3 separate regions of the Homo sapiens genome follow, and all the other regions are linked to region 2. Evidence: fine-mapped expression QTL. A gene starts in region 2. Each other region holds a variant in brackets. All regions are shown on one strand. Distances are from middle to middle. Region 1 overlaps TMEM161A (transmembrane protein 161A). Region 2 holds the start of SUGP2 (SURP and G-patch domain containing 2). Region 3 overlaps SUGP2 (SURP and G-patch domain containing 2).

What was found.
Region 1: its variant is fine-mapped to the expression of SUGP2 in skeletal muscle (GTEx, PIP above 0.99).
Region 3: its variant is fine-mapped to the expression of SUGP2 in whole blood (TOPMed, PIP 0.91).

Annotation. Positions count from the first base shown.
Region 1 is chr19:19,132,982-19,138,266 of GRCh38, forward strand. TMEM161A (transmembrane protein 161A) reads right to left here. Exons shown (of 12, transcript NM_017814.3): 2 at 1,803-1,906; 3 at 149-229. Among named protein-coding and RNA genes, the nearest start is that of TMEM161A, 2.9 kb to the right of the region's middle. RefSeq lists enhancers at 4,879-5,285, 5,225-5,285. The variant A/G (reference allele first, on the strand shown) is at 1,981.
Region 2 is chr19:19,027,529-19,036,444 of GRCh38, forward strand. It overlaps SUGP2 (SURP and G-patch domain containing 2), which reads right to left and starts at 5,989. Exons shown (of 11, transcript NM_001017392.5): 1 at 5,909-5,989; 2 at 3,423-3,554. The coding sequence starts at 3,543. It overlaps ARMC6 (armadillo repeat containing 6), which reads left to right and starts at 6,075. Exons shown (of 9, transcript NM_001199196.2): 1 at 6,075-6,402; 2 at 6,603-6,710. The coding sequence starts at 6,682. RefSeq lists an enhancer at 4,721-5,222 and silencers at 5,149-5,228, 5,649-6,078.
Region 3 is chr19:18,989,489-19,000,126 of GRCh38, forward strand. It overlaps SUGP2 (SURP and G-patch domain containing 2), which reads right to left. Exons shown (of 11, transcript NM_001017392.5): 9 at 5,656-5,792; 10 at 4,878-4,998; 11 at 1,405-4,252. The coding sequence ends at 4,878. Among named protein-coding and RNA genes, the nearest start is that of SUGP2, 39 kb to the right of the region's middle. RefSeq lists an enhancer at 399-899. The variant G/A (reference allele first, on the strand shown) is at 5,286.

The sequences.
Region 1 (5,285 bases), 100 kb after region 2:
CCCGGTTCACCTGTGCCCAGATCAGCGCCTGGAAGTATGGGTGGGCCGGTCCTGTGTCCCTGAGCCCAGAGCCCCCTGAGCAGGGGTGAGGCCGTTCCTGGGGAGGAGCCACCCTCCCAAGGCTGGGGCTGGGGCCCAGGTCACTCACCGCTCTTTCCTGCCTCTGGGCCTCGGCTTCCCCGCCAGGGCCCGAAGCTCCTCCTCAGACGGGTGCTTGTATCGGAACAAACTGAGAGCAAGGACGGGCAGTCAGGGAAGCTCAGGCGTGGGGTTGGGAGGTTGAGGCAGTGAACCCCAAATCCAGGGATTCTAGTTAGAGGGTAGCCTAGGCCAGGGGAACACTGGGAGGTAGGTGAGGGTACAGCATGGGGAAATTCTGGGGAAATCGTGAGACCAACAGATCTAGGCTGAGTGGGCTCCGGGGGCTTGGATACCCCTGAATCTGCTGGCTAACTCTCCTGGGGAAGCCAGTGTGTGCAACTTTTCTTTTCTTTTTCATTTTCTTTTTGAGACAGAGTCTCCCTCTGTCACCCAGACTGGAGTGCAGTGGCATGATCTTGGCTCACTGCAACCTCCACTTCCCCGGTTCAAGTGATTCTCCTGCCTCAGCCTCCCGAGGAGCTGGGACTACAGGCATGCGCCACCATGCCCAGCTAATTTTTGTATTTTTACCAGAGACAGGGTTTCACTATGTTGGCCAGGCTGGTCTCAAACTCCTGACCTCAAGTGATCCACCCGCCCCGGCCTCCCAAAGGGCTGGGATTACAGGTGTGAGCCACCTCGCCCGGCCTTTGTTTTTTGTTTTTGAGAGAAGGCCTTGGTCTGTCGCCCAGGCTGGAGTACAGTGGCACCATCTCAGCTCACTGCAGATTTGACTTTCTGGGCTCAAACGATCCTCCTGCCTCAGACTCCTGATTAGCTGGGATCACAGGCGTGAGCCACCATACCTGGCTAATTTTTAAAATATTTTGTAGAGACAGGGTCTTGCCATGTTGCCCAGGCTGGTCAAGTGATCCTCCCACCTTGGCTTCCCCCAGTGTTGGGATTATGGGCCTGAGCTATCATCTCTGACGTGTTTTTTTTTTTTGCCTTTGTTTTTGTCACATACATTTTTCTCAGGAGAGAATTCAGTTGCCACCAGATTCTCAGAAAGCATCACAGACCCACGCAAGGACAAAAACCAGAGCAGGCGAGCTCTAGCAGATGCAGGGGTGGAAGGAAGGCTGGGTTACAGGGAGGCAGGAAGAGTGAGGGACGTGGGGAGTGTGGTGATGGTTCCACACATGTGTACACCTGTCAAAACTAGTCCAACTGTGTACTTCAAATATATACAGTTTGTGTCAGGCATGGGAACTCACGCCTGTAATCCCAGCACTTTGGGAGGCCAAAGTGGTAGGATCGCTTGAGCCTAGGAGTTTGAGACCAGCCTGGGCAACTTAGCAAGACCCCATCTCTATTAAAAATTTAAAAATTGTCTGGGCATGGTGGCGCACACCTGTAGTCCCAGCTACTCAGGAGATTGAGGCAGGAGGGTCACTTGAGCCCAGGAGGTTGAGGTTGCAGTGAGCTATGATCAGGTCACTGCACTCCAGACTGGGTAACAGAGTGAGACCCTGTCTCTAAAAAGAAAAAGAAAAAACAAATATATGCAGTTTGTTGTACTTCAATTACACCTCAACAACGTTTTTCCCCCCACCACCCACCAACCAAAATCAAGGCTTTGCAATTTGTGAGGCGGGGCGTGGGGAGCCAGAAGGGGGCGTGACTCCGCGGGCCCCTCCCACCGCCGGGGCGGGGCTCACCTGCCGTTACAGAGCAGCCAGCGCGCGAAGGAGCAGTGTGGCGCCAGCCTGTGCATGAGGGTGGCAGTGAGCAGGGTCACCACCAGCTGTACTCCGAGGACCGCCTGGGGGGAGGGGACATGACTGGCAGCACCTGCCAGAGGGTCACAAGTTCCCTCCCTCCCTAGGAACCCAGGCT[A/G]TTTATAGAGAAGTCAGGCTGGATGGGGGAAGGGCGAGCCTCTTAGGCTCTAGCGGCTTCTTAGGGGAGAGTCCTGGGGTGAGTCTGGACTCACCTAGCATGGCCCTGCCCTCCCACGTCAGAGATCAACACCCACCCTCACCACCTAGCGGGAGTGTAGGGCAGTGGAGACCATGGGATTTGCCTCCCGCCTCCGCTATGGATTCAGGTATAATATTAATTTCCCGGAGTCTCAGTTTTCTCATCTGGAAATGGGTGCTTCCTATGTAGTCTCCTGTATTCCTCACCACCACCTTCCAGCCCCTAACCACGAGCCCGCCACACTCAGTGAAAGCGGCTCCCACCGCCTTCTGCACCCCACACTGTCACCTAGGGAGCCACTGCGTCTCGGTTGAGCTTCTAGCTTTCTCCTTCACCTGGTAGCTCCTTCCCCTAAGTGTCTCCCACCTTAAGTGATCCCTGATGGTTCCATCACCCTCCTCCCTCTTCTTCCCTTTGTAATTAACCTCCTTGAAAGGGCGTCTATGCTCCTGGCCACCTCCTGTTTTGGTGTGAAGACCTACATGTCTGAGTGGGGTGAGCTTATTTATTTTTATTTATTTATTTATTTTTTTGGCAAGGGAGTGGTGGGGAGAACAGGGTCTTGCTCTGTCACCCAGGCTGGAGTGCAGTGGCATGCTGGGGTGCTCACTGCAGCCTCAACCTCCCAGGCTCAAGTGATTCTCCCACATCAGCCTCCCTAGTAGCTGGGATTACAGGCACTCGCCACCATACCCAACTAATTTTTGTCTATTTTGTAGAGACAGGGTTTCTCCATGTTGCCAGGCTGGTCTTGAACTCCTAGGCTCAAGCAATCCTCCTGCCTTGGCCTCCCAAACGGTTGGGATTACAGGCGTGAGCCACTGTGTCCGGCCTATTTTTATTTTTATTTTTAGAGATGGGGTCTTGCTATGTTGTCCAGGCTGGTCTCAAACTCCTGGGCTCAAGTGATCCTCCCACCTCAACCTACCGAGTAGTTAGGACTACAGTCATGTGCCAACACACCCAGCTAAGGCTTTTTTTTTTTTTAATTAGGAATTTTCTCACCCAGTTCTTAATTCAGAACACATTTTCATATACTTATTTTTAAACGTTTTAGAAGAATCAGTCTGTGGTGAAGCTGGGTTTTCCTGCTTGAATGCAGTAAATACCCATTTGCTGCCAGTAATTACATAATTATGTAAAATTATGTGCTCAGGAGAGCTGTCTACTAGTGTTCTGGAATTATCATCAAAATGAAATAAAGTTTATTTAATAGTAAAATTAATTATGAAAATAATCCTTTAATCAGGCATAAATAAGCTAAATTTAGTCGGAAAAACCCTAATGTGATGGGTACCGGGCCTAGCACGGTAATTCAAAATGACTGCTGAGGCCAGGTGCGGTGGCTCGTGCCTGTAATCCCAGCATGTTGGGAGGCTGAGGCGGGCTGATCACTTGAGGTCAGGAGTTTGAGACGAGCCTGGCCAACATGATGAAACCTTGTCTCTACTAAAAATACAAAAATTAGCCAGACATGGTGGTGGGCGCCTGTAATCCCAGCTACTTGGGAGGCTGAGGCAGCAGAATTGCTTGAACCTGGGAGGCAGAGGTTGCAGTGAGCCGAGATTGTGCCACTGCACTCCAGCCTGGGCAACAGAGTGGGACTCTGTCTCAAAACAAAATAATAATAATAATAAAATAAAAATACATAAAATAACAGACTAATAGGACATTTTCTCTGTACCTGTGACTTGTAAACTGAGACCAGAAATCTTTTTTCAGTAATGAGGTTGGTGGCGGCATCTTTCTCATCTCTAAGTCCTCATTGCTCGCCCTCCCCGGGACCCTAGTGCAGACTGGCTGGCTGGCACTTAGGGACCATGAGTGCCAGCCCATGGGCCCCTGCAAGCCAGTGGGTCAGGGCTGTTGAAGCCCCACCCTTCCCCTAGGACCCTGCCCTCCCACCCCCCAGTCTGTTTTTCTCCTCTCTCTCCGACCTCTCTCCTGTGACCTGCCAGGGTTTTAACCACCCAATCAGCCAGCCCATCAAAACCTCAGCACGGTGACACCTCCAGCCCAGACCTCTCTGCTGAGCTCAACCAGTAGCCTCCTCCAGGCTCTCCTGGGAGACCCTAGCACTCACCCATCATCCCATACCCTTCCAGGTGGTTCAGGCCCTTCCCAGTCTCACAGTCAGCCCCCAACTTGGTTCTGCACCCTGCAGGCATAGCTAGAGACCATCCCTCCACCTCCCCACAGCTCAGCTCTCTCCTCAGCCCTCCCTGCACCCAACCACTGGAGTCTCAGAGGTCTTCCTGGACCTTTGGGCTCTTCATCAATGACCCCACCACCCCCCAAAACCCCCCAAGGGAAAAGGTGGTGGAGGGGTGCATCTCTCCACCTAAGGCTCCCAGAGGTCTGTCCAGGGATGTTCTGATGGCCCTGCCCTCCACCCAGCCTCCTGTCTCAGGGTCAGGGCTCTGCAGACATCTGCAAGAATTTTCTGGAGTCTTCCATCAGCTCCTTCTTTTCCCTTCACTGGATTTACGATTCTCGAACTCAAGAACCCTGATAAAATCAATGCAGCCTCCCTCCTCATTCCCGGGAGCCTGTGCCTTCATCTCCTACGGCGTCCTGCACCTCCGCCTGGGACGACGCCCCACTTTCAATAATTCCGGCCATCAGTGCCCTTCCTTCAGGGCCATCTCCAGCGCCCCTCCTCGGGGATGGTCCCAGGCAGAGACCCTCCAGTTCCACGTCCCTCTCTCTGCCCAGGCCGGTCCCGTCAGGGTTGTGGGAGTCCCCCATCTCCCTGCACCAGCCTGACCCCCAGGGGCTGGGCTAAGTTTTAAGAACACACTCAATAGGTTGGACCCAGAGCCGCGTGAGACCTGAAGGTTCCAACTTTCCTGTCTCCCACTCTGAGAACCTTGCCCGCCCTGAGGCCAACCAGACCTCCTGAGTCCACCTCCCACGGCCTCCCCTGCCCGTTCCACACACCCCGATATAGCAGGGACCCCCGATGGATCCTGTCGGCGCGGCCCCCACGCTCCTGCAGGACCCCCGTCCCCAGAGTGGACCCCCAACAGGACCCCACACCGCCTTAACCAGGTTCCAAATGTGCTGGGGTCCCCAGTCCCCTCTGTGGGACCACGACCCCTCAAAAGGATCCCAGACCCCTAAAAGGTCTCGAGGGCAGAATCCCCAGAACGCTTAGGGGCTTCTAGTCCCCCTGGGTACAACTCCCGCCGACTCCCTCGGAGGTCCTGTAGCGAGAGCAGGGC
Region 2 (8,916 bases):
TGCAAGTTAAGTACCAAGAAGACAAATCAAGCACGTGGGAACCTGAGGAGGCAATGACATTTTGAGACAGGCTAGTCAAGGAGGGTAGCTCTGACACTTTTTTTTTTCTTTTTTTTTTTGAGACAGAGTCTCGCTCTGTTGCCCAGGCTGGAGTGCCGGAGTGCAAGGGTGCGATCTTGGCTCACCGCAACCTCCACCTCCCAGGTTCAAGCGATTCTCCTGCCTCCGCCTCCTGAGTAGCTGGGAATACAGGCACCCGCCACCATGCCCGGCTAACTTTTGTATTTTTAGTAGAGACAGGGTTTCACCACATTGGCCAGGCTGGTCTGGAACTCCTGACCTTGTGATCCGCCCACCTCGGCCTCCCAAAGTGCTGGGATTACAGGCGTGAGCCACCGTGTCACGCTGCATAGCTCTGACACTTTATCTAGCAGCAGTGGCCTGGCATGAGGAGCCAGACCGTACAGTTACAAAGGGAAGCCTTCCAGGCAGAGGGGGAATGAGGACAAGACCCTGAGGTGGGACCAGTAGGGGGCCAATGTAGACAGAAGGGAACACAGGGAATGAAAGGCCAAGTGGTAGGAAGGCAGCTCCCAAACTCTGCTACTGGAGCCCCAGGGACCACCTCCCCAGACATTCTTACTTAATTAAATAAGGGGATGACCTGGGCATCAGGGTTTTTAAAAGGCCCCCAGGTGACGCTAACGTGCTACAAAGTTAGGGAACCACTAATATAAGAGACACAAATGGAGAAGGAGTACCAGATCCAAGTCGGGCCCTCAGTGGTACTCTGGAATTTACTCTGGGAGAGACAGAAGGCTAGTGAAGAGTTCTAAGCAGAGGGATGATCTCACTGGCTGCTGCACAGGGAACAGATTAAAGGAGATGAGCACAGACGTGGATGTTCCTGCAAGAAATCCACTGTGATAACCCAGGTATTGATGATTGGTATTGATGGCATGATTAGGGAGGGAACATTAGTGACAGAGAGTGATGGCTGGATTCTACTCAAGAGAATTTTCTCATACCCTTTATGAGGAGATGAAAAGTTCAGAGTGGAGCAGAGAAACAGAGAAAGGCTAAACGATAGACTGCTTTGCAACACAGAAATGTTCCAGAATCACCTAGCATACTGCTAGGTTTCTAGTCCTCTCCCACCCACGGCCCCCTAATCTGTCTTTTTTTTTTGAGACGGAGTCTCGTTCTGTCACCCACGCTGGAGCGCAGTGGTGCGATCTCGGCTCACTGCAACCTCCACCTCCTGGGTTCAAGCTATTCTTCTGTCTCAGCCTCCTGGGTAGCTGGGATTATAGGGGCCTGCCACATTTTTGTATTTTTAGTAGACACGGGGTTTCACCATGTTGGCCAGACTGGTCTCAAACTCCTGACCTCAGGTGATCTGCCCACCTTGGCCTCCCAAAGTGCTGAGATTACATGTGTAAGCCACTGCACCTGGCCGTCTTTTTTTGAGACAGGGTCTCACTCTTTGGCCCAGGCTGGAGTATAATGGCACAAACACAGCTTACTGCAGCCTCGACTTCCTGGGCACAAGCGAACTTCCTGCCTCAGCCTCCCAAGTAGCCAGGGCCATAGGCGCATGCCACCATGCCCAGATAAATTTTTTTTTTTTTGAGACGGAGTCTTGCTCTGTCACCCAGGCTGGAGTGCAGTGGCACAACCTTGGCTCGCTGCAACCTCCGCCTCCTGGGTTCACGCCATTCTCCTGCCTCAGCCTCCTGAGTAGCTGGGACTACAGGCGCCCGCCACCACGCCCGGCTAATATTTTTAGTAGAGACAGGGTTTCACCGTGTTAGCCAGGATGGTCTCGATCTCCTGACCTTGTGATCCGCCCGCCTCGGCCTCCCAAAGTGCTAGGATTACAGGCTTGAGCCACTGCGCCCGGCCATTTTTTTTCTTTTTTTTTTTTTGAGATGGAGTCTCGCTCTGTCGCCCAGGCTGGAGTGCAGTAGCGCAATCTTGGCTCACTGCAGGCTCCACCTCCCGGGTTCACGGCATTATCCCGCCTCAGCCTCCCAAGTAGCTGGGACCACAGGCACCCACAACCACACCTGGCTAATTTTTTTTTTTTTTTGATTTTTAGTAAAGACGGGGTTTCACCATTCACAGGATGGTCTCGATCTCCTGACCTTGTGATCCTCCCAGCACTCTGGGAGGCCGAGGCGGGCAGATCACAAGGTCAGGAGTTCAAAACCAGCCTGACCAACATAGTGAAACCCCATCTTTACTAAAATAAATACAAAAAAATTAGCCGGGCATGGTGGCAGGCACCTGTAATCTCAGCTACTCGGGAGGCTGAGGCAGGAGAATCGCTTGAATCCAGGAGGCACAGGCCGCAGTGAGCCAAAATCACGTCACTGCACTCCAGCCTGGGCGACAGTACAAGACTCTGTCTCAAATAAAAAAAAAAAAGAACTAGTAGAGCTTAAACCTGGGCAGCGGTGACAGGGATGGAGCCAGGAAATGGATCCAAGAACCTGTCTTGGGGCTGGGAGCAGTGGCTCACGCCTGTAATCGCAACATGCTGAAGGCAGAGGTGGGAGGATCACTTGAGCCCAGGAGTTGCAGACCAGCCTGAAAACATAGCAAGACTCCATATCTATTAAAAAAAACAAAAAACAAAAAAAACAAAAACATAAAAAACACCAAAAAACAAAACTGGGCTGGGCTCGGTGGCTCATGCCTGTAATCCCAGCATCTTGGGAGGCCAAGGCAAGTGGATCACCTGAGGTCGGGAGTTCGAGACCAGCCTGGCCAACATGGTAAAACCTCATCTCTACTACAAATAGAAAAATTAGCTGGGCGTGGTGGTGCATGCCCGTAATCCCAGCTACTCAGGAGGCTGAGGCAGGAGAATCGCTTGAACCCAGGAGGCGGAGGTTGCAGTGAGCCAAGAGGCGGAGGTTGCAGTGAGCCAAGATCCCTCCATTGCCCTCCAGCCTGGGAGACAAGAGTGAAACTCCGTCTCAAAACAAACAAACAAACAAACAAACAATAAACAAAACTGTCTTGAGGTGGGTCGGGGAGGATATCCAGTGAGAAGCTCCAGATAACTACATAATGATGACTGACAGATCAAAACATTATCCCCTGACCAAGTGCAGTGGCTCATGCCTATAATCCCAGCACTCTGGGAGGCAGAGATGGAAGGATGGCTTGAGCCTAGGAGTTCAAGGGTGCAGTGAGCTAAAACTGCGCCACTGCACTTCAGCCTGGGGGAGAGAGTAAGACCCTATCACAAAAAAGAAACCAAACCAAAATAAAAACCTTTACCTCCTCCTAAATAAGGAAACTAAGGATCAGAGGACTGGTATTATTTGCCCAAGGTATTGTAATCTTCCTGCCTTGGCCCTAAGATACACCCCTACCAAAACAACAACTACAACAACAACACTTTATTTTACCTTGAGCTTTAAACTGAAGAGTTTCGCTTACAGCCTCACCACTGGCATCCATGTGATATCGTTTGGCTTTTTCTTGTAATACAGCATCAAAAGTCTCCTGTGTAATTCGTCTGGCTGCCATGTTATTTTGCCCTATGGTGAGAGAGAAAAAAATACACTAAGAGCAACAACTTGGAGCTGGGCGCGGTGGCTCATACCTGTAATCCTGGCACTTTGGGAGGTCGAGGTGGGCGGATCACCTGAGCTCAGGAGTTCGAGACCAGCCTAGGCAACATGATGAAACTAAAATACAAAAAATTCAGGCTGGGTGTGGTGGCTCACACCTGTAATCCCAGGACTTTGGGAGGCTGAGGTGAGCGGATCATTTAAAGTCAGGAGTTGGAGACCAGCCTGGCCAACATGGCAAAACCCTGTCTCTACTAAAAATACAAAAATTAGCCGGGCATGGTGGTGCCTGCCTTTAATCCCAGCTACTTGGGAGGCTGTGGCAAGAGAATTGCTTGAACCCAGGAGGCGGAGGTTGCAGTGGGCCGAGATCATGCCACTGCACTCCAGCATGGGTAACAGAGTGAGACTCCGTCTCAAAAAAAAAAAAAAAAAAATTTCACCAGGCATGGTGGCACGTGCCTGTAATCCCAAATACTCAGGAGGCTGAGGCATGGGAATTGCTTGAACCAGGGAGACAGAGGTTGCAGTGAGCCGAGATCATGCCACTGCCCTCCAGACTGGGGGACAGAGCGAGACTGTCTCAAAGAAAAAAAAAATGCGTGCTCACAGAACCTGCTCTATTTCACTTAATCCTCGAAGTAAGGAGGCAGTAATCCATAATCCTCGCATGGTACTTCAGAGGCAAGCTGGACCCTTTTTATTTATCTTTTTTTTTTTTTTTTTTAAGTAGAGACAGGGTTTTGCTAGGTTGGCCAGGCTGGTCTCGAACTCCTGACCTCAAGCAATCTGCCCACCTTGTCTGGACTCTTTTAAGGGGGTCTCTGCCCTCACGAAGTTCACAGGTGTGTGCTGGCTGAAAAGGAGCAAGACAAACCTTCTCTGGGCCCATCTCCTTGGAATCCATTAAAAGCAGCTCTGTGAAAGCAGTTCTATCTGCTGGAGGAAGGTGTCAACCAACACACATAACTGAGCATAACAGAGTAGGAAGGGTGGGACCACAACCCTCGCAAATCGTGGTTAGGAAAGAAGAGATCAATCTTTTTTTTTTTTTTCTTCCTTTTTTTGAGACTCTCCCTGTTGCCCAGGCTGGAGTGCAGTGGCATGATCTCGGCTAACTGCAACCTCCGCCTCCTGGACTCAAGCAATTCTCCTGCCTCAGCCTCCTGAGTAGCTGGGATTACAGGAGTCCGCCACCGCATCCGACTAATTTTTATATTTTAGGTAGAGATGGAGTTTCACCATGTTGGCCAGGCTGGTCTTGAATTCCTGACCTCAAGTGATTCGCCCGCTTCGGCCTCCCAAAGTGCTGGGATTCCAGGCCGTGAGCCACTGCGCCTGGCCCAGGATCACTCTTTTCCCATTCACAGACTCAGCAGGGCACAGAGGCTCTGAGAACTTCCTTCCCTTCTAAAAGAAGCCTCTTGACAGTGAGTGGCGGGACCCCCAACCAATGACAATGAACTAGTGACAGTTCATTCTGCGCTGGGTCCTTGCGCGATCTCCCAACCACCCACTGAAGAGGCGGGTCCTGTTATGAATGACATTAGGGTGAGGAGGCAAAGGGAGACAGACTCAACGACCCATTCAAGACCAGACAGCCCAGATTTGAACCTGGCAAAAAGGGTATTCGTGCATCCAAAGCCCCGAAGAATGAGTAAAAAGATTAAGCAACATTTTGGGGTCCAGGGGCTGCATCCTTAACCATCAAGATATCCCGCTTCGCAAAACCTCCAACTTCAAGAGACAACCCGTAGGGTCCATTTCCCATCACGATCACCGCCTCCCCCACCCGCCTCCCCCAGTCCCATCCTTCAGCCCTTTTCCCGGGGCGCCCCCTTGTTCTCTGCTGGCAAAGGGCAGGGTTCCCGGGTCAGGTGACCCAGGTTCAAATCACACGATTCTAAGCTTTCTGTGCTTCCGTTTCCCCACCTATGGAATGGGCAGCCAGTAAAGGGGCTGGTGTGGGGGCTGAACCGGTTCTAAAGAGGGCAAGGGCCCGATGCAGCGCTGGGCGCCGTTATCTCCTCCCGAGCGGGGGCCGCTCCGAGTTCGGGAGGAATGAATGAACGACTGAACCAATGAGCCTTTGTGGACGCGGCCCGCCGTCTCCCGGCCTCTGCGGGCGAGGAAATGGGGGCGCCGGGCCCGGGAGGCCGCAGCCGGCCACCCAGGCCAACCCGGCGGGGACGCGGCCGCCGCCGCAGCCAGAGGGCCGAGCCTGCGACGCCATCACGGAGCCCGGGGCGGGCCCCCAAGGCCGAGCCCGAGCTTCCCACCCCGGGAGCCACCCACCGACGACGCCAGGGCCCGGGCCTCACCCCGAGACCACCGCGCGCGGAGCCACCCCCGCCGCCGCCTCAGGCTCCTCACCCGCCGCCGCCGCCGCGCGAGGCGGGGACATGCAAATGAACCAACGGTCTCCGCAGCGCCGCGCCGCGCAGGCGCAAGCCGCCGCCGAGTCCTGGTGCGCAGGCGCGGGCCGCCGCGGCCCGGCTCTCTTGCGCAAGCGCGCTGTCCGCTTCTTCTGGGCGGACGCTCTGGAGGCAAAACATTTCCCTGCTGGGGGCGGCGACCACCGTGAGCGTCCCGGAAGGGGCGGCAAAGACGCCTCCGTCGCGCACGAGGTGGCCTCGTTGGCTTTACCTTGGTTCGCGGTCGTCCTTGGTTATCGTGAGCGTCCGCGAGTCTCTGGGAGGCCAAGCCTAGGGGCGCCACAGCGCCTGCGCGCGTACGGCGGCCGGAAGGGGCTAGAGGCGGCTCCCTGGGTGACAACCGCGCGCCCCACCTTTCCCCACGTGGCCGCGAAGACCGGGTGAGACGCTGCGGCTGCCGAGGCCTGTCCCGCGCGGAGTGGGGAGTGGGGGTGCCGCAGGGTCGGGCTGGCGCGACCCTCGGGTACGTGGTTTGGGGGGAAAAAAAAAATGAAAGAATTTTACAGAAGCCGCCTGGGGACAAAATCCTCGGCTTCCCTGGCATTCGCTTTATTTTCATTCATTTTATTTATTCATTCAGCACCTGTGCACTGAGTGCCTGCTGCGTGTCGGGCCCCGTCCTAGGCAGTGGGGACAAGGAGGCTACAGGGTACAAATAAATGAGTGAACGATGTTGCTCTAGATACAGGTAATGGTGTGCAAATAATAACAGAGTGATGGGACGGGAAAGCAGGGCTGCTCTTTATCTAGAAGTGGTTTTGAAGGCTGTCTCTTGAGTGCTGGGAAGGATGAGAAAGGCGGGGAAGAGGAACTTGGAAGGCTTAGATAGAGAAGGTGCGGATAAGGAGGCTGGGTTTTGTTCTGAGAGGGTTGGGAAGCCACTACCGGGCTTTGAGCACGTGAGTGAGGTGGAGTCTAGGCTCTGGGAGTGGCAGGTGACGCCGCCCTTAGGGGAGGCTGGTGTTTGAACCAGAGTGGGTGTGGCTGGTAGAGGGACATGTGGATGGAGTCTTTTAGAGTCCCCAGCATGTCATGGCACACGTTTAATTTTCTTTTGAGACGGAGTCTTTCTCTGTCGCCCAGGCTAGAGTGTAGTGGCATGATCTTGACTCACTGCAACCTCCACCTCCCGGGTTCAAGGGCTTCCCCTGCCTCAGCCTCCCGAGTAGCTGGGACTACAGGTGCGCAACACCGCACCTGGCTAAATTTTGTATTTTTTTTTTTTTTGAAACGGAGTCAAAAGGAGTTCAAGCGATCTCCTGCCTCAGCCTCCTGAGTAGCTGGGATTACCGGTGTGCACTATCTTGCCTGGCCTTTTTTTTTTTTTTTGAGACGGAGTCTCGTTCTGTCACCCAGGCTGGAGTGCAGTGGCGCAATCTCAGCTCACTGCAAGCTCCGTCTCCTGGGTTCAGGCCATTCTCCTGCCTCAGCCTCCCGAGTAGCTGGAAATACAGGCACCCGCCACCACGCCCGGCTAGTTTTTTTGTATTTTTTTAGTAGAGACGGGGTTTCACCGTGTTAGCCAGGATGGTCTTGATCTCCTGACCTCATGATCCGCCCGCTTCGGCCTCCCAAAGTGCTGGGATTACAGGCGTGAGCCACCGTGCCCGGCCCTGGCTAATTTTTTGTATTTTCAGTAGAGACAGGATTTTGCTATGTTGGCCAGGCTGTTCTCAAACTCCTGACCTCAAGTGATCTACCCGCCTCAGACTCCCAAAGCGCTGGGATTATAGGCCTGAGCCACCGCACCTGGACAGCACAGTTTTCTTGATGAGCAGATTCCTGGCTGAGAGAAGGAAACTGGCTGCCAGTTAGGGGCCTTACTCATCTTCTGTTTTACCCTCAGCATGCCCTGATGGATAATAGGGACTGGTAATGCTGCTTCCCCCTTTTAGCCTAGGCTGTTCTCCAGGTAATTCTTACTTGGCCATCTCCAGGCACCATCTTATGTGTTCCAAATCTGTACTTTCCTCCTCCAACTCAGCCCTGTACCAGATCTAGGGGACCTTGGAGGACTCAGGTCAGGGGTGGTCACAGAGCCAGACCTTCCCAACTCAGTCAGCTCAGGGGTGGGTGGAAGGGAGGGGTTGTGGGTTGGGGAGTGAAGCCAGAGAGTGTGGGCTCTCTGAGTGGCCAGGAAAGGCAGCCACCTGGAAGGGCTGGCAGAAGCTCCACAGAGGACTGAGAATCCGAAGTATTTGAGACAGGTGTCAATCAGTTAGAAAGCTTATTTTGCCAAGGTTAAGGACATGTCTGTGACACAGCCTCAGGAGGTCCTGACAACATGTACCCAAGGTGGTTGGGGCACAGCTTGCTTTTATACATTTTAGGGAGACGTGAGATATAAATGAATATGTGTAAGATGGTCACAGGTAGAGACAAATGATTGCTTTCTTTTGAGTCTTTGGTCAGCCTTTCACAGAATACACGATTTATATGGGGTACAGGGCAGGTAGAGGAATAGTCATTTATGCCTCAGTCCGACTCATGAATCTGAGGTTTTGTTTCTTGTTTTTTGTTTTATTTTTTGAGATAGAGTCTCGCTCTGTCGCCCAGGCTGGAGTGCAATGGCGCAATCTTGGCTCACTGCAACCTCCACCTCCCGGGTTCAAGCAATTCTCTTGCCTCAGCCTCCTGAGTAGCTAGGATTACAGGCGCCCACTACCACGCCCAGTTAATTTTTATATTTTTAGTAGAGACGGGGTTTCGCCATGTTGGTCAGGCTGGTCTCGAATTCCTGACCTCAGGTGATCCACCGGTGTCAGCCTCCCAAAATGCTGGGATTACAGGCATGAGCCACGGAGCCAGGCCAAATCTGCATTTTTACATAAACGTTAGGGCAGAGAGAGCAACTGGATATGCATTTGTCTCAGGTGATGACTTTCTGTCCTGCA
Region 3 (10,638 bases), 37 kb before region 2:
CTCGCGTGCTGCTTGAACATGCATGCGCGCACATCTGTACGTGGGCATGCATGCACAGCAAAGGCCTGGACTGAAGCCACACCTTGCTTTTGCTACTGGGGCTTCTTGGCAGCGCCTTCTGCCTGTCTTGCCCCAAGGAAGCTCCAGGGAGGAGAAAGGCCATGACAGGGATCTTGTGGTTCCACTTAGTCCTAAATTATTAGGTTGGTGGAAAAGTAATTGAAGGTTTTGCCATTACTTTTGCACCAACCTAGTACAAGGCAGCAGGGGAGATTTTACCTTCCAAATGAGATCCTTCCCAGTCTGTAGAGGGGAAACTGAGGCCTGAGATCAAGTGACCTGCCTGGGTCAACGCCAGGACAGGCATCCTGGGCTGGACACCACTCCTCCTGTCCTCCTAAGACACCCTGACCGGCCTTAGGGTGATATTAAGAGGAACTAGGGGAAGAAGGGTTCCACTACTGAAGAGAAATTCCTGGTGGTTCCTCACCCCCTGCAGGTGAGCCCCACATTTTCCCTGCAGGCTCCGGCCTTTCTCAGGGAGTGCCACTGAAGCTAGCGGTTAGACATCGCTAAGATGAAGGCAGGGTGAGGGTCTTGGCTGGCAATAGCTTCCCCCGGGACACGGTAGAAGTGAGGCTGGGGGTCCTGCCTCAGCTTCCTAAGGGCTCTGTCTCAAGGCTCCCGCTAAGCTGCCCACAGGGACCTTTCTACATGAGCATCACCTGCCCTGGGCACAGTGCCTTCCCCCTCCCTGCAGTCTGGCTCCTCCCCTCCTCACCCTGGTCAGGCAGAGGCCCCTGCAGGCCCCCTGGGTGCTGCCTTGGTCTCTGCTGTGCCCTCTGCACGCCCCTCCTCACCTGGAGGGCCAAGGGGCTGTTGACAGAGGAACCATGGGCAGGCTGGCAGCACCCAGGGACAGCAGGGAGTGTGAAGATGACAGAGAGGCAGCTCTGCAGTCAGAGGGTGGCCCAGGCAGGCTCTGGTTTTACTCTGGCAGCTGGAACCCCAGCCCTGGGATGATGGGGCAAAGCCCTGTGGGGACAGGTGAGTCGTAGGCAGCAGGGGCACAGCTCCCACTGCCCTGACACCCCTCAAAGGCAGCTTCTGTACTTGGCGGTACCGATTACCCTCCCCAGCCTCCCCAGAAGGGAATTGCCCTCCCTCTGGTGGGTGCTTGGTCCCTTCCTGCTCTCTGGCATCTTCCAAGCTTTCCTGGTGACAGTGACACAAGGTCCCTCAGGTGGGGCAAGCCAGTGAGGAGGGGCCCGAGGGAGGAGCACCACGCCGGCGGAGGGCACGTCCTGGGAGGCAGCCATCATCTGGTTCTACACTGCACTCCCATCTGCGTGCGCTGGTGTCTGATCTGATTTTAAAAACACAGCCATGGAGACCCCAGCACACTGCATTTCCTCTACATTTATTGCAACGGCTAAATGATTAACAACATTCACAACTTCTTAGATCTTAAAAAACAGAAACAAAAGAAAACTTCCATTTTGTAACATCACAAATGTCTTCTAGGCTTTATCAAGGACCAAAAACACTACAATTCTCTAAGTGATTTCCAGTGATGGAAACAAGCCAGAGACAGTAAAGCACCCAGAGTGGCGAGAGAGCACTTCCAGATGCCTGTTGTCCTCTCGGGGGTGACCCTGGAACTAGAACGACAGAAAAGACACTGTGACTTTGACACGGCTGTGCCACCACACATCACGCGCGACACGAGGATCCTGCAGAGCGGCCTCTGCAGAGAGCAAGGACAGCCTCGGTTAAGAGGGAGGGGCTGGGGGCACGGAGGGCCAGTGGCATCTCCTCTATCCCGGCTGGCCGGCAGCTGGCAGCACGCACCATGCTCTGCTGGCTCCCGACACCTTCACTGCCCCAGCGCTGAATCCACAGGAGAGGTGTCCTCTGAGAGTGTAGGGGGCTTTCTAGGTTCAAGGAGATGTGCCCTTTGACCCCTGCCAAGGACTCACAGAACCATCTCAGCTCAAACTTGGAGGAGCGGCAGGAGGTGGGGGGCGGTCAGTGGCCACACGCCACAGATTCCTAAAGCATTTAACTTTTTAATAAAATGAAGTGGAGAAAGTCAAGAATGAACATGCTAGGACAAAGCACATGGAATGGTCAGGGCGATGCTGGAGAGAGTGCGCTTGATCCACGCTGCAGGTGTGTGCGCCTCGCTCGGGTCAATGGGCTGAGCCCCGCTTGGAGCTCCATCCATTCACCTGACCCATGGCCAACATGGAAGCTGTCGGAGGGGTCAGGAAAGGAGAAGGAGAAAGGAGAAGATGAACCCCCCGCACCTGTGACTCCCCAAAACCAGCTCCACTCCAGGCCCCCACAGGCTGGTTCGTTCGAGGGTTGGGTTATAAACCCAAACTCCATCCTCCATGCTGGCACCTCTACTGCCATAAAGATCTGCCAGTTGCCAAAGCTACAGAAGCCACTGGAAGCAAGCAGAGCCCCTGGGGGTGGTGGCACTGCAAGGTGACAGGGACCAGGCAGACAAGGAGCTGGGACCACAGCCTAGGAAGTCTGTGGCTTAAAGAAAGCCAGGATTTCCTTTTTTTTTTTTGAGACAGAGTCTCGCTCTGTTGCCAGGCTGGAGTGCGGTGGCACAATCTCGGCTCACTGCAACCTCCGCCTCCCGGGTTCAAGTGATTCTCCTGCCTCAGCCTCCTGAGTAGCTGGGACTACAAGCGCCCGCCACCACGCCCAGCTAATTTTTTGCATTTTTAGTAGAGACAGGGTTTCACCATGTTGGCCAGGATGGTCTCGATCTCTTGACCTCGTGATCCACCTGCCTCGGCCTCCCAAAGTGCTGGAATTATAGGCGTGAGTCACCGTGCCGGCCTTTTTTTTTTTTTTTTTTGGAGATGGAGTCTTGCTCTGTCGCCCAGGCTGGAGTGGAGTGGCATGATCTCAGCTCACTGCAACCTCTGCCTCCCCGGTTCAAGTGATTCTCCTGCCTCAGCCTCCTGAGTAGCTGGGATTACAGGTGCCCGCTACCACGCCTGGCTAATTTTTTTGTATTTTTAGTAGAGACGGGGTTACACCATGTTGGCCAGGCTGGTCTCAAACTCCTGACCTCAGGTGATCCATCCGCCTCAACCTCCTAAAGTGCTGGGATTACAGGCTTGAGCCACTGTGCCTGGCCCAAAGCCAGGATTTCTTTACAGCCAATACAAGTGGCATTTCCCGCTCAGTTCTGTGGCTGATGCCCTAGCCACTGCTGTGTCCCCTAATCCTGGGGTGTCAGAGGGATCCTAAGTTTTCCAGATTTTTGCCCATACTTAAAACTTCAACGATCCTGCTTCACAAGGAAGGATGAGTGGAGAATTGAGTGGAGTTACACGCAGCAGAGTGCTGGGGAATCTGGAGAGCGGGGGCGATCACATGCCTGGAAATAGAGCAGCTGCAGAGCCCACCCCAGGAGGAGCCTGCCTCTCCTTACAAAGGCTGTAATAAGACAGCACTTGACGATGCCATACGTGCGAAAAGTGCAGAGTCTCAGAGGGTTTACAACCCCCATCCCTTTGTAACTGTAGTTTGCTTACACTGTGGATTCTAAAGAGACATGTAAATCTGGGGCCGATTTCATCTGTTTAATGATTACTCCCCACCCGATAGAGCTATTCTATACTGTTGCTAAAATTTCATTAAGTCTCTCAAGATGCATTGATGAGATGAGACACCATGAATAACACATTCATCAACTCAAGTATGGCAACTGTTCAGAGAGCTTCAGAGCTTTGGTACCCGAGTGCAGACTTGGTAATTACCGGGAATTTGTCTCCCCCGTATAAATTCTGGCGAACAACGAGAAAACACCATCTGTGATCGTTTCCACATCACGTTTGCTAACAGAGCACTTCTGGAGAGCAATGGCCAGTCCAACTGGAAAATCAGCCAGAGGAGCTGGTTCCTCAGCACTCACAGGCTGAGGTGCCTTTCGGGGGCAGCGCCACCTTCTGAAGGGGAACCAAGACAGATTTGGAGGGGACTTGCTGCTAAAAGCATGTGAACAGAGAGGAGAGGCAAAAGCACATTGAAAATGGTGCATGTTTTTTTCTTTGAGAGAAAGAAAAGCCAGCGAAACCTCCGCCCCAGAGACTGCAGAGACGTTTGTTTTCATGTACACACCAAACCGTACTTGGGCACTGGCTCCAGGCCGATCCAGGGCAGGGATGATGTTTTAAGGGCAATTGCTGCTTCAAGGCTTATCTTTCACATCAGTGGTTTTGATCTATTCAGGAAGAGAACGATTTTGTTCAAAACTGAGGTGGAAATTAGGTGAGGGGGCAACTAAAAAAAAAAAAGAATAGAAAGATGAGGATATTTACAGGCCCAAGGCCCTGCAGAAGGAAAAGGATTTGAAGACCCTCACAAAGGGACACAGCCAACTGCCATCCTCTGTGGCAGTGGCTGTCACAGTCGCCCTTCCACTTGCATGATGGCAAGGCCCTCTGGACTAGGAACAGTCCGTTTGCTGGTCATGTTATGTGGTAGGTGGCTGTCATCTGTGAGAGAAAACTTGAGCAAGAGAAGAGACAGGCGTGGCCTATTTCCACACGCACATCCACGGAGGCTGGCCTGGAGGCCTTGAGGGGCTCACAGCCGGGGCACCAGGCAGGCCATGCGCATCTGCCCTTGGCCAGTGTGAGGTTTGCTCCTTCAGCAAACCTGGAAGGTAAGAATGGGGCATATCCACATCCATAGACCCTTTTGTTTCCCTCACAGAATTTTGTGATTTTTTTTGTGTGTGGCATTTTTGGGGGAGCAGGGAACATCAACTTTGTTGGGGGAAATTTCTCTGCATACCAGCACGCCAGCGAGGGCAGACGGCCTTACACACTGGCCTGTGAACATACCTATTTGTTGGCCCGCTTGTGTCTGTACATCTGCATCATCCTCTGTCGGAACACATCGAATGTGTCTTCTTTGTGCTCCTGCCCGTCAGCACCCAACCCTTCCCCTTCCGAGGGGGTTCCCCTAGGGAGTGAAAAAGAGAGTCAGTTGTGCACCTGAGCCCAGGGCCTGGCATGCCAGGAACTGGGCATGGGCACAAACAGTCCATGAGATGCAGGTGTTTGGGACACACACTGAGACATCAAAGAAAGGGAAAATCAAGACGCGACTCACAGTAGAAACAAGGAGTACTCACCCTCGAAGAGCTGGCTTTTGAGGGGGTGCCCAGAGGGCCCTGGTTACCTCGGAATGCCTTACCCAGCAGGAACTAAGCTCAGTATTAAATGAAATGCCTGCTGGAGGTTATGATC[G/A]GGGTTTAATAAACTTTGGGCCTGTGTTCGGGACCCTGGCTGGCCCGGCTATGGGTTCCCGGGAATGGGAAAGCAGTTCCAGACGGAAACTACACAGAAATACCACTTAGCTTTTATGATGGTCACAAATGTGGCCAAAATGACCAGGGCCAACAAGCTGGTTAAAAAATCTACACCAGGACAGAAAGGAGCCCTGTAAACACCTGCACATGTAAATGATCAGCTTCTCATCTGAAGATGCCTTCTGTTTAAAAAACAAAAATCAACTGCCAGCTGTAAGCCATCTTGGCTGTGAAGGAGCCAAGCGGCAGGCTGCAGGTGGAAGGACTGAGGCCCCACCCACTCCCACCCCAGGCTGCCTGCTGCGTACACGCTGACCGGCTCCCTGATGCCCTTTCCGAGGGAGCCCAGGCCATGGCCCTCCTTCCAGCCCATCTTCTGCAGCATCTGGAAGCCCAGGTTCTTATCGGTCAGCTTCTGCTGGGCGAAGTCCAAGTCCTTGGGTTTCTGAGGAGAGAGGAGAGTCCAGGCATGTGGGCCACAGGGAGATGCCTGGATCAAGGGTCTGTCCTAGGCTATGCCTGGAGCCCCTCACCCCCAAATGCCCTCCTGACTCCCCAGATGCTCAGGCTCAAGCTCCAGTCACTTCCCCAGTTCTCTGCAACATCCCTGGGTGGGATGGAACTTCTAAGTCAGAGGTCACTGGCCTGAGGTCAGTCGTGCCTCTCAGCTACCACTATAACCCTGGTGCCAAGACTGTGAGGAAAACTGGGTAAGGGAATGGCCAGTCCCGGGGTCAAGGAGTCAGTAGGAAGGCCCTCAGCGGAACCCTGGATAAAGAAGGGTGGCCCTGTGATGACCACAGGGCGCAGCCCAGGGAAGAGTGGGGGGCACCAGGGCACAGGCCTGCAGGCAGGATGGGGGCCAGACAGTGGGTGAGAACTGGCTGGCAGCACCCTCCCTGAACCACCCCAACATACCCCTCCCCGAGTGCTTCATTCACTCCCTGGCTGCATTGTCTGTCTGTCCTCAGGACTGAGTTCTACTTGGACATTGGGGTCTGTGTCTAGCACAGAGCAGACCTCACTGAGAGCTAGTACAGCTGTTGATTGCTCCTGTGGGTGGTGGGGAAGTGCAGCAATCTCTGGGCCACTAGATGGAGATCTGGAGACAGACAGGGCCCTGGGGCCTCTGGAGGAGGAGCCTGCAGGGCTGTAGCAGAAGGAATTTCTATTCACTCATGAATATTCATGACACACTGCTGTGTGACAGAGCCCAGCTGGGCAGTCCAAGACCTTGCCATGTATTCCTTGGCTCTTCACGAGTCAACTTGTGTGGGTGGGCTGGGCGTGGTGGCTCATGCCTGTAATCTCAGCAGTTTGGGAGGCCGAGGTGGGTGGATCACTGGAGGTCAGGAGTTCCAGACCAGCCTGGCCAACGTGGCAAAACCCCGTCTCTACTAAAATACAAAAATTAGCCAGGCATGGTGGCAGGCACCTGTAATCCCAGCTACTTGTGAGGCGGAGGCATGAGAATCGCCTGAACCTGGGAGGCAGAGGTTGCAGTGAGCGGAGACCGTGCCACTGCATTCCAGCCTGGGCAACACAATGAGACTGTCTAAAAAAAGAAACAAAATACAAAACTTGTGTGTGTTTTTTTTAAATATAGAGTCTTGCTATGTTGCCCAGGCTGGTCTCGGATTCCCGGCTTTAAGTGATCCTCCCACCTCAGTCTCCCCATTAACTGGAACTATAGGTATGTGCCACTGCACCCAGCTTTTGATGTTTTTTTTTTTTTAAGACGGAGTCTTGCTCTGTTGCCCAGGCTGGAGTGCAGTGATGCAATCTCAACTCATTGTAACCTCCGCCTCCTGGGTTCAAGCGATTCTCCTGCTTCAGCCTCCCGAGTAGCTGAGATTACAGGCGTGTGCCACCACGCCCACCTATTTTTGTATTTTTAGTAGAGACGGGGTTTCGCCATGTTAACCATGCTGGTCTTGATCAAACTCCTGACCTCAGCTGATCTGCCCGCCTCAGCCTCACAAAGTGCTGGGATTACAGGCATGAGCCACTGCGCCTGGCTGATGTATTTATTTAAGGCATTTACTGAACGACCTGGGGAGGCTGTGAGGGTTCATGTGCTCTTGAGAGGGAGGGAGGAAGGTGCTGAGGAGGATCACGGGGGCTGGTGCTGGGGGTCTGAGCAGGGGACAGGTGGGAGTGGCTGGGAGAGGGTTAGATGACCCTGGGCATGGGAAGCAGGGTGAGAAGGGCATGCTGAGTGCTGTGAGCTCAGGTCTTTGGGCAGTCAGCCCTCATCAGCTTAGCAACCTGCCCCATGATGTCATGCAGGCCTCACGAGGTATAATTCAACCAAAAGACAAATCCCCCCCTTGCCATCTGCATTGAGGTGCCCAGGAATCAGCTTCCCTAACGTTAGGGGTGCATGTGGGAGGCACTCCAGAGACAAAGGAGCTTGGAGACAAGGCACAAAAGGCTGAGCCTGGGGGAGCCAGGGGCTGGGAGAGGAAAGGGAGAAGGGAGAGAGCAGGGCCTCAGGTCAGGAGGGAGGGAGGGAGGAGAGAGCAAGTGCTCCCATAAGGAAGGCCTGGGCCTCTGGAGCTCCTGGGGCCTCAGTGTTCTCACCCTAGAAAGGGACAAAACAACCTGGAGAGGTGCTGAGAACTCAACATGCAGCAAGATGTAGGGGGTCAGAAACGGATACCCTAAGGCTGGGCGCGGTGGCTCACGCCTGTAGTCCCAGCACTTTGGGAGGCCAAGGTGCGTGGATCACGATGTCAGGAGTTTGAGACCAGCCTGACCAACATGGTGAATCCCCATCTCTACTAAAAATACAAAAATTAGCCAGGTGTGGTGGCACGCCCCTGTAATCCCAGCTACTCTGGAGGCTGAGGCAGGAGAATCCCTTGAACCTGGGAGGCAGAGGTTGCAGTGAGTTGAGATCATGCCATTGCACTCCAGCCTTGGCGACAAAGGGAGACTCCGTCTCAAAAAAAAAAAAAAAAAAAAAGAAAGAAAGAAAGAAAGCGATACCCCGAATTATAGCACTTTGACAGGTGGGACTAAAGTAGCAGCCTCAAGGTCCCTCCCAAAGCACAGGAGGAAGCTGTTTTCTTCAAGTTCCCTATCTACCTAGAAACTGGACTTGCCAAAGAAGAACACAAGGGCCTTGGATCCCTTCCCTGAAATGTCATTAACCAGAGTTGAAAACTCCTATCACACAAGAAGAGATGGAACATTAAACACCACACCTAGAGCCCAGACCACTGGCTGTTCTCTAGTCCCATTCAATTCTCAATGAGGATCATTCACAAGATGATGCCTGCCTCCATTCATCTCTCCTAAAATCATCTGCTTCCCCTCTAAAGTTACCTACAGCCTCCCATCTGCCCTCTCCCCTACAAAGAGGTATTTCAGCTTCAACCACCTGGCCCTTCTTTGAGTTTTCATAATGTTTTATATGGCTCCTGTGCTTATGCACGTGAATAAATATGTATAACTTTTTTGTTTCAAGACAGGATCTTGCTCTGTCACCCAGGCTGGAGTGCAGTGGCTCCATCATGGCTCACTGCAGTCTTGAACTCCCGGGCTCAAGTGATCCCCCTGCCTTGGCCTTCCAAAGTCCCGGGATTACAGGTGTAAGCCACCGCACACCTTTTTTTATCCTGTTAATCTTCTTATTGTCAGTTCATTTCAACAGGCTTAGACTTGGACCTTCAAAGGCGGAGGGAAATTCCCTTTGTTCTCTTCAGAGGCATCTCCGAGGGTATTATATAAAGTAGCTGTGTGTGTGTATGCATGTGTGTGTGCGTGTGTGTATGCATGTGTGTGTGCATATGCGTGCACATGTGTGTATCTTGTGTGTGTGCGTGAGTTACTGGATGCAGGCGGCCCCTCCATAATGGCATGAGGTGGTCTTGGTGAGGCGGTGTGGGCAGAAGTGTCTCTGCAGGGCAGTTAAGGAGGGGAGGTATGAAGGGAGGAGCTATGCTATGGGCTGGGACAGGAAGAGGGGCACAAACAGTGAAGAGACACCCCTGCAAACCAGGGGACACCAGACAGGACCTGCTACACTGGGGGGCCCCTTGCCATGAGAAAGTGGCCTGGAGAAAAGAGGTGACAGAACCCACCGGCTGAGATGAGAAACGGGGCATCCGTCAGGCCCTTCTGGGAGCTGTGCACGACCTGGGCCCTGGGATGACGGGTAGGGAAGGAAGGGGAAAGGCTGGTCATGGCAGGGCACAGGGGTCCCCAGAGGGCAGGTCTGTACTCTTTTCCCTTTCAGGAAGGCTGCTTGGAGGTGCAGTGGGAGGAAGAGGGTTTGGCTCAGCCTGGAAGTTTCTTCGTGAATGTTCAAATCTGTGTTTAACAATCATGATGGTGGTTTCCTGGACAGCTGGAGGAAAGCCAAGCCCTGTGGGCGAGGTGGAGGTTTGCAGAGGAAAGCTGCAGCCACCACGGCCTCCCTTCCACCCACAGTCACTGGCAGACAGGAGGACAGGTGCAGAGCCCCAAGGAGACAGCAGCATGTGCAGGACACCCACCAGGAACCGCGTTCAGTTTAATCCTCACTGTACCTCCTACCTGCTGGGTAAGTGTGGCCATCCCATTTTACAGACAAATCCGTGGCTCAGGGGTTACACGCCAAGGTTACAAAACTACTCGGTGGCAGGGCTGAGCTAGAGTACAGCTGTGCCTGACACCAAGGTCCTGCTGTGCCCTCATCTGGCCGTGCCCTTATCCAGGCCACACCAAGGGGCACCAGATGCCAGCTCAGCCTAAAACCTGGCACATCAGTAAGGACTATGAGCTCTGGACTCGGGAAGGTCCCTCCTTCCTGCCATAATTGGGGTCAGACTGACCTAGGTCACTCGGAAGGGGTTGGAAGCAACATGGCACTGCCTGACACCAGCAGAGCGATCTCGCCTGGCTCCCCGCCCTCCTCCCTGACCATGAAGGACTGGTGAAGTCTCTCCACATGTGTCCCAGGTGACCCTGCTTGCCCCCAGCACTGTGTCCCCCAGGCCATCTGGAGTGTACCTGCCCCCTTTCCATAACCTGGCTCCAGGTCAGTGAATGGCAGTTCTGTCCCTCTTCTGCCCAAGCTGACAACCCTGGGGTCATCTGGACTCCTGGCTTTTGCACACCCAGCCCACAAGCAGGTGTCACCCACTCCATCTTCTCCCCTTCTCATTGCTCCTCATGCCCTGGTCCAACTGTCTTAAGTTTGAGCCTCCTCCTGGTTCCCGCCCACAGGCTGCTCTCCACCCTAGTGGCCACATCCACCACAGGTCCCAGAGGTACCCTCCCTTCCCTGAGAAAGGGCCACAGCG